Linked DNA regions of Homo sapiens: region 1 is linked to region 2. Evidence: fine-mapped expression QTL. Tissue or cell type: sun-exposed skin. Region 2 holds a variant in brackets; the other region holds the start of a gene. All regions are shown on one strand. Distances are from middle to middle.

Evidence for each region. PIP is the estimated chance that this variant, and not a neighbour inherited with it, causes the effect.
Region 1: MRPL45 starts here. The variant in region 2 is fine-mapped to the expression of MRPL45 in sun-exposed skin (GTEx, PIP above 0.99).

What each region holds. Positions count from the first base shown.
Region 1 is chr17:38,293,149-38,301,241 of GRCh38, forward strand. It overlaps MRPL45 (mitochondrial ribosomal protein L45), which reads left to right and starts at 4,020. Exons shown (of 8, transcript NM_032351.6): 1 at 4,020-4,101; 2 at 5,301-5,478; 3 at 6,203-6,320. The coding sequence starts at 4,036. LOC105371760 (a long non-coding RNA gene) reads right to left here and starts at 2,457. Exons shown (of 3, transcript XR_934732.2): 1 at 2,346-2,457. RefSeq lists enhancers at 3,356-3,904, 3,905-4,455.
Region 2 is chr17:38,583,682-38,591,784 of GRCh38, forward strand. The region is part of intron 1 of SRCIN1 (SRC kinase signaling inhibitor 1); the gene reads right to left. Among named protein-coding and RNA genes, the nearest start is that of SRCIN1, 18 kb to the right of the region's middle. The variant CT/C (reference allele first, on the strand shown) is at 4,257.

The DNA.
Region 1 (8,093 bases), 290 kb before region 2:
ATCTTTACTAAAAATAGAAAAAATTAGCCAGGCTTGGTGGCGGGCACCTGTAATCCCAGCTACTTCGGAGGCTGAGGTAGGAGAATCACTTGAACCTGGAGGCCGACGTTGCAGTGAGCCGAGATCGTCCCACTGTACGCCAGCCTGGGCAACAAAGTGAAACTTCATCTCAAAAAAAAAAAGAAAGAAAAGAAATATCCTTTTGGTGTTACTTCTCTAACAGACAGCTCCCAATTTTCTTCTTTTTTTTTTTTTTTTTTTTTTTTGGGGGGGATTGAGTTTTGCTCTTGTTGCCCAGGCTAGAGTGCAATGGCATGATCTCGGCTCACCGCAACCTCCACCTCCCGGGTTCAAGCAATTCTCCTGCCTCAGCCTTCCGAAGAGCTGGGATTACAGGCGCCCGCTACCACGCCCAGCTAATTTTTTGTATTTTTAGTAGAGACGGGGTTTCTCCATGTTGGTCAGGCTGGTCTTGAGCTCCTGACCTCAGGTGATCTGCCTGCCTCAGCCTCCCGAAGTGCTGGGATTACACGCGTGAGCCACTGTGCCTGGCCAGCTCCCAATTTTCCATGAAGCTGATGAGGTAGGAAGATATGAATTTTCCAAAACAGTAGCTCATCAAACAACAACAAAACTAACTTATAGCTCATCTCTAAGCAATTAAATGATATTGACTCCCCTATCATTATTTCATCCAGGCTGATATGGAACAAGTTTGTATTAACTGAGAAACTGATCAGAGGGTGGGCAGAGATGATCTGGGATGTGTTGGCTACTGTGTGAGGCTAACATAAAACTCAATGGTGGAGGAAGTAATCTAAGATAAATTATATTAATGTTCTGCATTAATCAATAATCTTGGCCAGGCGCGGTGGCTCACGCCTGTAATCCCAGAACTCTGGGAGGCCGAGGCAGATGGATCACCTGAGGTCAGGAATTAGAGATCAGCCTGGCGATGTGGTGAAACCCTATCTCTACTAAAAATACAAAAATTAGCCAGGCATAGTGGCAGGCACCTGTAATCCCAGCTACTCGGGGGACTGAGGCAGGAGAATCGCTTGAACCCAGGGGGCAGAGGTCGCAGTGAACTGAGATCGAGCTATTGCACTCCAGCCTGGATGACAGAGTGAAACTGCATCTGAAAAAAAACAAAAAAACAAACAAAAAAAACACCTCTCATCCATGGAGTAAACTTTCCTCACTTTGGTTGGGAATACCAGTAAAAATAATTCATGTTTTGGCCGGGCACGGTGGCTCACCCCTGTAATCCCAGCAATTTGAGAGGCCGAGGTGGGCGGATCACCTGAGGTCAGGAGTTTGAGACCATCCCGGCCAACATGGTGAAACCCCATCTCTACTAAAAATACAAAAAATTAGCTGGGCGTGGTGGTGGGCACCTGTAATCCCAGTTACTTGGGAGGCTGAGGCAGGAGAATCACTTGAACCCGAGAGATGGAGGTTGCAGCGAGCCAAGATTGCGCTATCGCATTCCATCCTGGCTGACGAGTGAAAACTGTCTCAAGAGAAAAAAAAAATCATGTTTTATTTTCTAGGGATTAGAGTAGGTGGACAGGAGTCTGTTAAATAATCAGATATAGCTTATTTAAATGCTTAATAACATATATTCTATTTTTTTCTTTTTTCTTGTTTCCCTATGCTTCTATAGGCACTGAATAGCTCTGTTGCCCAGGCTGGAGTGCAGTGGTGGGATCTTGGCTTACTGCAACCTCTGCCTCCTGGACTTAAGCCATCCTCCCACCTCAGCCTCCCCAGTAGCTGGGGCCACCATGCCCAGCTATTTTTTTTTTTTTTTTTTTTTGAGACGGAGTCTTGCTCTGTCGCTCAGGCTGGAGTTCAGTGGCACAATCTCGGCTCACTGCAAGCTCCGCCTCCCAGGTTCACTCCATTCTCCTGTCTCAGCCTCTGGAGTAGCTGGGACTACAGGCGTCTGCCACCATGCCCGGCTAATTTTTTTTGTATTTTTAGTAGAGACGGGGTTTCACCATGTTAGCCAGGATGGTCTCAATCTCCTGACCTCGTGATTCGCCTGCCTCGGCCTCCCAAAGTGCAGGGATTACAGGTGTGAGCCACCGCACCCGGCCTAATTTTTTAATTTTTTTGTAGAGATAGGGTTTTGCCATATTGGGCAGGCTGGTCTTGAACTCCTGGACTCAAGGGATCTAACCCACTTCCGCCTCTCAAAGTGCTGGGATTACAAGTGTGAGCCACCCCACACGACCCCACATACTCTTCAACACATACATACAGCACTAATTTCATGTCACTATTAATGTGTCGTGCTATAGGTTCAATACTGTGGCTGGAACTTGTAGGGAAATACTTACCACATAAGAATGTACGATATAGCTGCGAAGTCAAGCTTTAAAAAACGCCTGTAATCCTTGCACTTTGGGAGGCCGAGGTGGGCGGATTGCCGGAGCTCAGGAGTTGGAGACCAGCCTGGGCAACACGGTGAAACCTCGTCTCTACTAAACTAGAAAAAATTAGCCGGGCATGGCAGCGTGCACCTGTAATCCCAGTTACTCTGGCGGCTGAGGCAGGAGAATCGCTTGAACCTGGGAGGCAGAGGTTGCAGTGAGCCGAGATTGTGCCACCGCACTCCAGCCTGGGTGACAGAGTGAGACTCCGTCTCCAAAAACAACAACAACACGTGATCTCCAAACCCAAAAGTAATCTTTCAGTTCTTCTGATAGTCCCCAGCACTTTGCTTCGACCTTTGTAGCAATTCTACTTCAGCCTGAAATTTCTTGTATGTACAGCCTGTAGCTCCTAACTTATTGCAAAATATTGTAGATGAGAACTCTGTAAGCTGTAATTGGCAGAATAATAACCAACGGCTAAGTGTGGAAAGTGTCTGCCTTTCAGCAACGTTTACACTACTGAATTTACCAGGGTGATCCCAACATCACGAATCCTTTAACAACTTAACATGAAGCAGCACGTAGCAGTTACCTGCATGGGTTCTGGAATTAGACTGCTTAGATTCAAATCTCGGTTCTGCCAGTTATCATCTATCTAACCTTAAGTAAATTACGTAATTGCTCTGTGACTCCTTTCCGAAATGACAAATCACAAATGTTTTTGTCAATTCACGTGTCTTCTGCTTTAGTAAACATAGTAGAAGACAGTAGTCAATCTCTTTTTTTGTTTTTTTTTGAGACAAAGTCTTTCTCTGTCACCGACGCTGGAGTGCAGTGGCGGGATCTCGGATCACTGCAGCCTCCGCCTCCTGTGTTCGAGGGATTCTCCTGCCTTAGCCTCCCAAGTAGCTCAGACTACAGCCGCCTGCCACCAAGCCCGGCGCTCTCTTGCTGGCGCATGACAACCGTGCGTTCCACCCTACGACTAATTTTTTTTTTTTTTTTTTAGACGGAGTCTAGCTCTGGCTGGAGTCAGTGGCGCGATCTCGGCTCACTGCAACCTCTGCCTCCTGGGTTCAAGCGATTCTCCTGCCTCAGCCTTACAAGCAGCTGGGACTACAGGCGTGTGCCACCACGCCCGGCTAATTTTTGTATTTTTAGTAGAGACGGGGTTTCGTCATTTTGGCCAGGCTGGTCTCGAACTCCTGACTTCAGGTGATCCACCGGTCTCGGCCTCCCAAAGTGCTGGGATTACAGGCGTGAGCCACCGCGCCCGGCCTCCTTTTCCTTTTTTAACTAATGGAATAAACGGCAATGTGCCAAGCATACAGCAATGCCCATTCCCCGGCCTTCAGAAAGCCTCGGGCGCAGGCGCAGCTCGCGTTCAAGCGCTCTCTCGCTGGCGGGGGACAACAGTTCGTTCCACCCTACGCCCAACGTTGTCTCCCTGCGCACGCGCGGCCGTACTCCGCCCTCCTTACTCCACCCTCCCCCACTCCCGCGAGCACGTGCGCGTCCTCGCTGCTCACATTTCGGCGGAGGGCGCGCTCCCTGGAAAATTCCACTCCTGTGCTAGCTCCACCCTATGCGGCTTTTCTCCTACCCGACGCTCTTCACTCTCAGCTCCCTTCCCGGCGGCCTTTGCGGGAACAAGATGGCAGCCCCCATACCTCAAGGGTTCTCTTGTTTATCGAGGTTTTTGGGCTGGTGGTCTCGGCAGGTGGGTAGGGACGGGGCCGATAGGACCCTAGGGGCTACAGGAGAGGACAGAGTCGAGGGAAATACTCTCTGTGCAATTGTCCTTGGTGAGCTGGGACAATACGAGTCATACCTAGGCCGGGGAAGAGGCTTAGGTGGACAGGACCTAGCTGCGGAGCTCAGTGGTCGAATGGGGATAGCCTAGACAGGGCCATGAGAGCGAGTGAATTAACGGATATTAAGTTTTTCCGGATTGGTTTGGGTCTGTCTGGCGAGGAGATATTAAAGGAGAGACAAGTAATGGGTTGGAAGGTGGACTCCCTAATCTTCGATTCTTATAAGTGAACTACGTTGAAGAGTAGCCGAAAATGAGGGCGTCCCATATTGTCACTGCCCCGTCTGAGCAAACCTCATGATCAGAGAGAAAAGATCTCCTGATCTTTCGAGGGTTTATTGGTCAGTTGGGTGCTAAAACGACAGAATAAAGTTTACAGCGAGACTCCCGATAGGATGAGCAAAATATCACGAGTACATATGGAGCAGATGCCTACAAGAGGACTTTGCTTATGCTTTAAGCATAGCATTCAGGGCCCGGCGCGGTGGTTCACACTTGTAATCCCAGCACTTTGAAAGTCCGAGGCAGAAGGATGGCTTGAGCCCAGGAGTTCGAAATGAGCCTGGGCAACATATAAGACCTGGTCTTTACAAAAAAATTTTAAAATTAGCCAGATGCGATGGCGCACTCCTTAGTCCCAGCTACTTGGGAGGCTGCGGTGGGAGGATAGCTAGAGCCCAGGAGGTCAAGGCTGCAGTGAACCGTGATCGTGCCATCGCACTCTAGGCTAGCGATCTGCCTCAAAAAATAATAAAGAATAGTATTCTGCCCATTTCAGTATTGAGTTGGTGTTTCCCCATCACCATCAGTTTTTGAAACTTGCTTTGATCAACTCAGTATCCGTAGGAGTTAGCATAGTCCTGTACTGTGGGAAGTTCTAAAGGAAAGCCTTTAGTAAATGTGATGTTAATAAAGGTTGCTAACTGTCTTCTATTTAGAGACACCCATAAGTATTAAGGTCCTAATGCATTTTTTCCCTGTGATATTGTTTTATAATTGTTCCTGAAGCATTCTTTGGATATTCCCTCTCTATAGTGCTTTGCTTAGAGTTTGTAAAAGATAGTAGATCTTTTTTCTAGGTTCCTAACCTTTCCTTTACCTTCCAGCCAGTTCTGGTGACTCAGTCCGCAGCTATAGTTCCAGTAAGAACTAAAAAACGTTTCACACCTCCTATTTATCAACCTAAATTTAAAACAGAAAAGGAGTTTATGCAACATGCCCGGAAAGCAGGATTGGTTATTCCTCCAGAAAAATCGGACCGTTCCATACATCTGGCCTGTACAGGTGAGGTATTTCTGGGACCCTGACCTGGGATCCTTCTGTCAGAGATCTTCTGGAACTTGGGATGACTTGGACTATGATTGATAATATTTAATTAAGCACGAAGTCAGTTCAACCTCAATAATGATTAACCTTATATACACTATATATCATGAAGTTGTTCTTTGAACTTACTTTCACACTGTCCCTAGAAGGCAAGAGTGAAATTTCTCCATTTTGTGGAAGTAGAAACTGAGGCTCTGAGAGAAGACTTAAATCTTTCTGGCTTTTTTTGTTTTGTTTTGTTTTGTTTTTTGAGACAGAGTCTCGTTCTGTCGCCCAGTGGCACAATCTGGGCTCACTGCAACCTCTGCCCCCCTGGGTTCAAGCGATTCTCCTACCTCAGCCTTCCAAGTAGCTGGGATTACAGGCACCTGCCACCATGCCCGGCTAATTTTTGTATTTTTAGTAGAGATGGGGTTTCACCATCTTGGCCAGGCTGGTCTTGAATTCCTGACTTTGTGATCCGCCCGCCTCGGCCTCCCAAAGTACTGGGATTACAGGTGTGAGCCACTGTGCCCGGCCTTGTTTTGTTTTTTTCTAGTGTAACATAGTTCTCTCTACATGGAAGTCTGTTTCATTAGTCTACTTCATATCCACAATCCTTCCCAATTTTACATTACTTCAATTTTATGAGTTTTTCTCAATCTTTCAACACTTTCTTAATTTTTTTCTTCCTTTATTACAGCTGGTATATTTGATGCCTATGTTCCTCCTGAGGGTGATGCACGCATATCATCTCTTTCAAAGGAGGGACTGATAGAGAGAACTGAACGAATGAAGAAGACTATGGCATCACAAGTGTCGTAGGTGTCTGAGACAATTGGGTATTGGTATTAGAATAACAATTTTTTGTTGCTACTTTATCCCAAAGAGACCTTTTTGGGTTAATTGGGTTGGGTGTCATTCTCTTAATAACATGATGGTATTTTCTCCTTTGTACTAGAGTCTGTATTTAATGCAGAATAATGTGGGCTTCCTGATTCTCAGCATCCCTGCCTTTATTGGTAATTTTTGTCATATCAGTTAGGGAGTTGACTTTGGAGTGTATAGGATCCTTTTTTAATCATATATTTAATTTTTTTTTTTTTGAGATGGAGTTTCGCTCTTGTTGCCCAGACTAGAATGCAATGGCACGATCTTGGCTCACCGCAACCTCCGCCTCCTGGATTCAAATGATCCTCCTGCCTCAGCCTCCTGAGTAGCTGGGATTACAGGCATGTGCCACCATGCCCGGCTAATTTTGTATTTTTAGTAGAGATGTGGTTTCTCCATGTTGGTCTGTTGGTCAGGCTGGTCTTGAACTCCTGACCTCAGGAGGCCCGCCTTGGCCTCCCAAAGTGCTGGGATTACAGGTGAGAGCCACCACGCCCAGCCCTTTATTTATTTATTTATTTATTTATTTTGAGACGGAGTTTCACTCTTAACTCACTGCAACCTCTGCCTCCCGGGTTCAAGAGATTCTCCTGCCTCAGCCTCCCGAGTAGCTGGACTACAGACGCATGCCACCACGCCCAGCTAATTTTTGTATTTTTAGTAAAGACGGGGTTTCACCATGTTGGCCAAGATGGTCTCGATCTCTTGACCTCGTGATCCACCCACCTCAGCCTCCTGAAGTGCTGGGATTACAGGCGTGAGCCACTGCGCCCAGCCGACCTGGCTAATTTTTAAAAGAAATTTTTGTAGAGACGGGTTATCACTATGTTGCCCAGGCTGGTCTCGAACTCCTGGGCTCAAGCAGTCCTCCCACCTCAGCCTCCCAAAATTCTGGGATTACAGGTGTGACCCGTCACACCCAGCCAGTCTAGCTCTGACTGTATCTATCTTTTTTTTTAAATTTGTACTGTTCATTGCAGAGCAGGGCTACCCCATAGGCCACTGTGCCCAGAGTAGCCGCTGTCACTATATGTAAATCATGTATAGGTTTATGTGCATAAGTATATTGAGTCAGTATGAATTCTTCACATGGCCATGACTTATTTCTCTACATATAGATTTTATTGGCTGGGTGCGGTGGCTCACGTCTGTAATCCCAGCACTTTGGGAGGCTGAGGTGGGCGGATCACCTGAGGTCAGGAATCGAAAACCAGCCCGACCAACATGGAGAAACCTCATCTCTACTAAAAATGCAAAATTAGCCGGGCGTGGTGGCACATGCCTGTAATCCCAGCTACTCAGGAGGCTGAGGCAGGAGAATCGCTTGAACCCGGGAGGCGGAGGTTGCGGTGAGCCGAGATCGTGCCATTGCACTCCAGCCTGGGCAACAAGGGCGAAACTCTGTCTCAAAAAAAAATAATAATAAAAAAGATTTTATCATATTACCTCCCTGCTTAGAACTCTTTTATGGCTTCCTGTTAACCAAAGAATAAAATCCAGATATCTTCAGTGGTATACAAAGCTTTTATAATCTGGTCCTTGCCTTTTTCTCCACCATCATTCTTTGTCCTTATTCCATTTTTCTCATCCTAAATTTTAGCATTTCCAAACTAATTGCCAATTCCTTGCCAGTACTGTACCATTCCTCTTTGTCTTTGCACATCCTTTCCTTTGCCTGAAATGTCTTTTTCCCCTCCTACTTT
Region 2 (8,103 bases):
AGCTGGGATTACAGGAGCCCACAACCATGCCCAGCTAATTTTTGTATTTTTAGTAGAGACGGAGTTTCACCATGTTGGCCAGGCTGGTCTCCAACGCCTGACCTCAGGTGATCCGCCCGCCTCGGCCTCCCAAAGTGCTGGGATTACAGGCGTGAGCCACCGCGCCAGGCCAAAGTAGGTTGCTTTCAATGAAAGACATTCCTGAGCAGCGATGGGCTTGTAGCAGCCTGACCTCCCTGTTACCCCTACGCCTGTTCCAGCCATCAGCAAGTCCTCGGAGTGGCCCTGACCCCCCTCGGACCTGAGCAGCCCAGGGAAAAGACACAGGGATCGATTCCAATCTAGCAAGCGGATCCAGGCACCTGCCAGCCCTGCACAGATCAATGCGTCCTGTTCCAGGCAGGGAGGGCATGAGAGACCCGGGCTGGGGTCTTAAGCATGGCTGGGTTCTGCTGGGAGAGGGATAGGGGCATTGCGATAGAGAGAGACGGAGGCAGGGAACTCTGGGGGAAGGGAAGCAAAGCTAGGATACCCTGGTGGAGGGGCGTTGGGCCTGAAGGTTCCCCCCAACCCAGGGATGGGGTTGGGGAAACCAGAGACATAAGGGAGGGGGCTCAGGGCTTCTCTTTTCTCCAAGGAACCTCAGTGTGCAAGGCTGACTATATTTTTTGAGTCCGAGATTCAAGCCACAGGGAAGATGCCAAGAACTGGCGAAATCCAGAATCCGAATGAGGGGAAGGGCAGGGTGAGGAAGGCGGGTTCTGCCACCCTCAGCTCAGCCTGCCCCGCCTGGGAAACGCGGAAGGTGAAAGTGGCCTGAGGCTGGGGTGGCCGGGAAGTGGCGGGCGCCCCCCAGTGGCCGGCTAGGAGGACGGCACAGGTGCTTGGGAAGAGTGACGTTGTCATTTGTCCGAACAATTCCAAATTCTACGTTTATTTATCAGCCTCATTTATTTTTATCCTCCACCACATTCTTTTACATGAGATCACTGTAACTGATTATGAGAATTAAGATCCCAACATCTTAGTGACACCATCTCATAAGCCACCAAGCCGGTCCCCAACTGGCATCTTTACCCCGGATGTAACCCTCTACTCTGTCCTCTGGCTGCCCCTGGGCAACATTCACACATGATGTCATCTGCAAAGGAGGAGAACGGGGAGAGGAGAGGAGAGGGAGGGAGAAGGAAGGAGAGAGGCAAATGGACAAAGTAGAGGAAGAACGAAGCCACCAGCTCAGGAAAGGGAGAAGAGAACTCTCTGGGGCCCCTGATGTGAGTCCTCCCCAGCCCCAAACTCAAGATCTGGAAATCAGGTCCCTGTAACCCTCTCTGTGGAGATAAGGAGGCTGGACAAAACCCCTCCCTTGGGGACCTGAGAGGCTGTCACATGTGTGCCCCGACCCACTGCCTGGGCAGGGGTAGGAGCTGGGTTATAGCCCTGGCAGGAAGCGAGGGCAGGAGGCACTCAGGGTGAAGACACCAACTCACAAGCCCACAGGACATGGGGCTAGGCAGGGCAGCAGGAGAGGAGCATGGAGACAGCTGGAAGGGTGGAGGACCTGCCTGCCTTAGGCCACACCCACACACACACACAAACACACAGCATGAGGCTCCCCCAGTCCCTCCTCTGCAGCCAATGCTACAGGAGCCCAAGTCAGCCAGGAGGAGCCCCGAGGCACTGCCACCTTCGATTGTGCATGATGACTCCATCCTGCTGGGTGCCTGCTGCAGTCGGGAAGCACACGGTGTGCTTGGAGGTTGGAGGCCAGAGGACAAAGGTCAACCGGGACCAGATATGTATCAAACTAGGCAGAGGCTCTGGGAACCCGAATTAGGAGAGGGGATCCTTTGCTTCCCCTGCTAGTGAAGGAATCGGCCTCCCTGTCCCTGGGTGCCCCTGGCTCTGCCTTCCTTGTGTGCCCATACTCCTCAGTTTCTGCTGGCTGGCTGTGGGTCCTTGGATCAGAAGCCCATCTGTGTCTGTTTTCTAAAACCATCTTTTCCGCCCCATACCACAGCAACCAAAGTCATTTTCCGGGCAATTGCCTTTCTGTAAACATTCCTGTGTAATATCCCCCCAAATTGCTAATACCCAGCGCCCTGTTGAGTCTCCCTGTCACTCCAACTAAAGCCTCGGAGATGAGGGCGTGTGATGGGGGAAGGGCGATGGGGGGAAGGAGGCAGCTGGACTGAGGATTGGAGACAGGGGGCTCCTGCCTAGCTCCTGGCACAGAGCGGGGGCCAGAAACTCTGCACCTCCCCACGGTGATCCCCACTCCCTGCCAGCCCAGCCCCACCCCCTGAATGTCAGGCTCCACTTCAGGAGAGTCTGCCTGGACTAGGAGGGAAGACAGAGAGGAAGTGGGAAGGGAGCCCACTGGACAGAAGGCCTGAGACAGGGCCTGGGAGGAGAAGGAGCTGAGTTGAAGGCATGGAGGAGATGGCTAGAAAATAAAGACTCCTGGTGACTAGGGCAGGGCACTAGGGACATGGGGCAAGGCCAGGCAAGTTGTCTTCAAGGAATGCCAGCTCCCCTCCCCACCAAGGGTGACAAGGAGGACAGAGAAGAGGGTCGAGGCCAGGGAGGATCGAGGCCATCCCCCCAGCGTGGGCCCTGCCCACTCCCTGGGCACTGTAGTGGATGGGGGCGGGGGGAGATGGACAAGGCAAGAGGTGTCAGGTGGTTCTTGGCAGGTGATACACCTGTTGTCCCCTCCTCCACCTCCCAGCCCTGATCTATAAAGCCACCATGGAGAAGGGTCTGGAGCAGGCTGATTCTCCTCATCATACAGCAAGGGAAACTGAGGCTCAGGGAGGTCGAGTGATCTAATCTGAGTCACCACATGGACTCCCTTCCCCAGGGGTGGGGGTAAGAAGGGGGACTAGGACTGTGGCCTATGACCCTGTGGTCTCTTCCATCCCCCTGCCCAGGGAATACTGCCACCCCCTTCCCAAGCTCCACAGAAGCTGGGCATCCAATGGGATGGGGGATGATGGAGCCCTGGAGGGAGCTGGGAGCAGAGGTGATGCAAAGGGCAGCTAGGGAGGGTGCAGGGCACTGCCAGTCACAGCTTTGTGTAGGCAGAAAAACACAAACCAATTTGTGCAGATTTAAAACCCACTGAAGGCCACTTAGTTGGTAAACGAGTCAGAATCTAATTAAAGGACCTCTTCGAGGCTGGGGGAAGGCACTGACACCTGCCTAGGAGGAGCGGTGAGGCTGGGGGCCTGGGCCCTGGCTGCTACTGGTGGAGCTGCTGGGGCTTTCCATGGGGAGAGCAGATTTGAGGGGGTCAAGCTCCCTGCGGGTGGGCACCCGGGGAGGGGGGCGGGCATCAGATGCTTCCCCAGCCCAGCTCTTCCTCCTCGCCCATCCCAGGCTGACTGTGTCCACTTGCACAGACCTGGGCACTCCCAGGGCAGGACCCTCACCTCCTCCCTCAGACTGGGGCCTCCCTTATGGCAGAAGGGCCATTCCACCCAGAAGGGCAGAATTGGGTGGGGTGAGGAGGCCCACCCACCACATCAGGAGTGGGGTGGGGTCCTGGGGACTCTCAAAGATCCCAGGCTTGGCCTCGGTGCCACCTCCACCAACTGCACTGGCTCTGCATGGCTATTGAGTCCTTGCTTCCTTCTGCTTGCAGCTGTCTCTCCCCCAGGGCCCCAGGCCACACAGCACAGCAGCTCTCAGACTCTGGTGGTGAGGTGGGGCCTCCCCTCAGCTCTCAGCTCTCGGGAAGAGGTGGCCCCCTCCTTACCCGTCCTGTGTCGGGAAACCACAGTGCTCTCTCTCCAGCCAGATGCCTTTCCTAGGCAGGAAACCAACACCCAGAGTACAAGCCTGACCCAATCTGCAGGAGCTGAAGGCAGAGCCCAAAGTGGAACCCAGGGGTCCTGGCCCTCAGGGACAAGGATTTTTCCATTCCACGATGCCACTTCCCAGAAAGCAGCTGCCTGGGGAGCCCCTCTCTAGGCCACGGGCCCCAGGAGGACACAGACTAACAACCTCCTTAGGAAGGATCAGCAGCAAGGCAGAAACACCGCAGCAGCCCGGCCGACAGGGAGAAAAGCTGGGGTCCATGGCCCAGTGATGCCCCCAGCCCAGGGGGATGCTCACCACACAGAAATCAGGGTCCCCGCAGGGCATCCGAACTGCACATTCAGACAAGACTCCCCATCCTTGCAAAATGTGCAAATCAGCCCCGTGCCCAGAATTCCAGATATACAACCCTCTTTCTTCCCCCTGCCCCTCCT[CT/C]TTCACACACAGCAGGCAAATCTGTGACATTACCAAAAACCACTGCATCCACTGACTAGTTATGTGACCTTGAGTAGGTCAGGGGATGCTCAGAGCTTCAGTCCTCTCATTTGCTTTAACAAAAAAAAAAAAAAGGAAGAAGAAGAAGAAGCAGAAGCTAATAACAGGCAACAGGCAACAGGCAACAGGCATGCAGACTGCAGAGCCTGGGTGAGCAGAGTCAGTTTCTTCTGATCTACCCCGGAGCCCGATTTCCTTCCACCCACTGTCAGAGTTGTATCAGACCCAGGACTGTGGGGTTGTGATTTTTGGCTTCTAATGAAGATCTGGCTAATTGGCTTCCCTGGGAAGGAAGGGGGCAGAGATATGGAGGGCAGCATGTCACCCCCAGTCTGAAGCTGGAGCTGGAAATGCTGAGAACAGCCCTGGCATGTGCCCACGCGGCACTATGTTAACCAGCTAACTCCTGTGTGGCAGCTCCACTGCTCACGCGCCCAGGGAAGGTGTCCTGTCAGCTCCACATCTCCTTGGAGAGGCAGCCGAGGGGAACACAGGCCGAGCGGGAGGGGAGGAGGGAACACTGGAGGGTGGGAAGGGAGGAAGGCCGGTGCCTGTCCTCAGCTCTGCCATCACTCTGAGGAGGCTGCCAGGGCGTCTTCTCCCCAGGGGGCACTCCAGCCTGAGTGCTGCGCCCCTCTGTGTGTGAAAGGGATCTTTCCTCCCTCCCTGCAGCTGCCTCAGGCTGAAAGCGTGCCCAGGGGGAAGCATATTGTTTCCAGGGGAAGAGACTCCAATCTGTTGGAAGTGAGTGGTGGAAGCCCCACCCACCATCCTGCCTCCCCACAGGGAAGCATTTTCAACACCAAGTACTCATCAACGGGCTCATCAATATTGGGCAGGAGACCCAGCCTTGCCAAGATGCCCTTGATATCCTCCTCAGAGACACCACCTTTCATGGGGACAGGCTCTCCCTAGGAGGCCTTGTCCCAGCCCTATGACCTAGTAGCACTCAGACAGCTCCCTCGGCCGCTAGAACCAGCAGGATTCCTCCGGGTTCCCAGCACACACTCAGTCGCCCAGGCACACACATCTGCTCACTCATGCTTCTACGTCAAACCTGTGCACCTCGGCATGCGCCTGGCTGCCCAGTACTTGCTCACTGACATGGGCCCAGTCACAGCCTGCCTCACCAGCACTCTCCACCTGACCTCAGGTGATCCACCTGCCTCGGCCTCCCAAAGTGCTGGGCTTACAGGCGTGAGCCACCGTGCCCAGCCATGATAACCACTCTTGAACACCCACACGTATTCATGACAGTCTACATGCAGGGGTCTACATACCTGGGCCCACCAGGGTGCCCCACTCTGCCACCTTAGATGCCACGCAGACAGGGAGAATGTCATGCCAGTCCACGCAGCTCATGCAGGGCATCTGGGGCTCGCTAAAGCGCCAGGTGGATGCATCTCCAGCTTGGGGTGAAAGACAGTGGGGACTTGCCCATCCTGAGTCCCTCATGGAGGCGACATCTTCAGCTCCTTTTCCACTTTGCCAGGTTCGGGGCTCCCTTGCTGAGGTGTTTACACAATGTCTTAAAATACAGGAGTCAGCCCAGTAACCTCAAGGCCACCTACTCTGACCAATGCTTAGCCAATGGGGCGATGTTCATGAGTGAGACCCTCCTCTGGGACCTGGTTGCCTCCAGCCCTCATTCCACCTCTGTAGGTGCTCAGCGCCTCCACCAGGGCGAGGGGGCCGGAGAGCCTCTGCCCAGCTTCCAGCTCTGCTGATGGGGAAGGACAGGGCTGCTGGGACCCAAGGCTTAGCTCTCACCTCATGGGTTAATTTCTCTGCCACCCTGCAAGCTAGCTAAGAACAAACAGCCGAATCTGCAGCCCATGATTCTCTCTCCCTAGGGACACCCTGTTAGTATCCCGAGAGACTCTGGAGGATGGGGCGAGGGCAGCCCGGAGTTCACAGTTTGGAAAAGGCAGGAGACTTGGCAAGTCGGCTTGGCCTCTGGGTCAGGCAGTCTTTGGAAGCCAGGGCCTGGTCAGATAGCAGGGGCATCTTGTGGAAGTTCTCTTTGTTGTCTAACCTGAGCTCTCCCATCAGAGCAGCATCTGGGAATGTGGAGCACAGGCTTCAAGGCAAGGAAAAATAAACTGTCTCCCCTTCTGCGAAAGACACAAAGACTCCCACCCTCCCTTCTCCAATCCACACATCCATCTTGAGTGACGAGGGTTAAACCCAGCATCGGGCTTTCTGGAAGCTGTGGGAAATATGGACCAGCCATGAAATGATAACCACTCTTTTTCTTGAGACAGTCCTGCTCTGTCGCCCAGGCTGGAGTGCAGTGGCACAATCTCAGTTCACTGCAAACCCCTCCTCCCGGGTTCAAGCAATTCTCCTGCCTCAGCCTCCCGAGTAGCTGGGACTACAGGCCCGTGCCACCACACCTGGCTAATTTTTGTATTCTTAATAGAGACAAGGTTTTGCTGTGTTGGCCAGGCTGGTCTCAAACTCCTGACCTCAGGTGATCTGCCCGCCTTGGCCTCCCTAAGTGCTGGGATTACAGGCATGAGCCACTGCACCCAGCCATGATAACCACCCTTGAACACCCACACATATTCATGATGATCTCAAAGGGCTCGTGCAGCCATCATTCTCTTCATTCTCACAGTCACCTTGTGAGGTTGCAAACCCCCTATTTTACAGGTGAAGAAACTGAGGCTCAGGAAGGAGTGACTTGTCCAAGGTCAGAGTTGATAAGTGGAAGAGGCTGATCTCAACTGCCGGGGTGCTTAGCCCATTAGCCCATGTCCTTCTTCTTTCCCCTACACTCTGTTGCCCCTGAGGAAGATGCTGATTCTGCCACCAGGTCATCTGTGAGTACTCATCTAAGCCATTAGGCCAGAGCCCCACAGGTCCCCTCTGTCCTTCCTACACCCTAAGAAGAGAACGCTGAAACAACCCTCCTTCCCAGCTAATCTTGGGCGCCATCCACCCAGTCCTCTTGGGGGGGCCTATTCCCCAGGGCTGGAGGAGAGGGAGGAAGCAGAGCCACCCCCAGATCACAGAAACTTAGGCTGGAAGTGGGGGTCCCACAGTCCTGAAAGACCTTCTAGGGGATCCACCTTTCCACAGCCCTACTCGTAGCCTTCTTGTACCTATGCTGGATACGAAGCCCTCCCAGCCCCTGCCACAGGCTGTGCAGAGACAGAACTGCAAATCAGGAGCTCCAGCCAGTCAGGTCTTAGATACTTCCAGGAAAGGAGAACTCATTACATCCAAAGCACCAATCATCTTGTGGGGTTTCTCCTTCCTTAACATGAGCCACAGTCTGTGCCCATGGCCCTCAGGGGAACCTGGGGGAAGGTCATGACCTCTCCCTTTGGAGCAGAGTGGAGGCTCCTGAACCGGAACCTTCTGTCATAAGCCCTCAGGTCCTTCCTGTGTGGCCCAGCCCCCCAGCCATCTGCACCACCCTTTGTTGGGTAATCCCCATGTCACCACCCCTCTTGGCTGCTGGCCTTCAGAACTGCTCTAATGGTCCAGATGAGGTATGAGCAGCACAGGTGACTCCTCTCTGCTTCTGTTACTAAAGTGCCTTCGCTAGTGCCCCTCCTGCCCACACAGCACATGTGCCAGGAAAAACAAATGCTCAGGGCCTAAGAGCGCTGTTCCAGGGCCAGAACATACCTTCCTTGCCTCCTGCTCCTAACGCTCAGGCCTCCCCCAGCCTCAGACCTCAGGGGGCCAGCCTGACTCCTCCTGCCTGGAAGGGGTGAAGTTCCTGGCCCAGTCAGCTGAAACTGCTCCTTCCAGTCACTTCCATTTGCTTTCTGG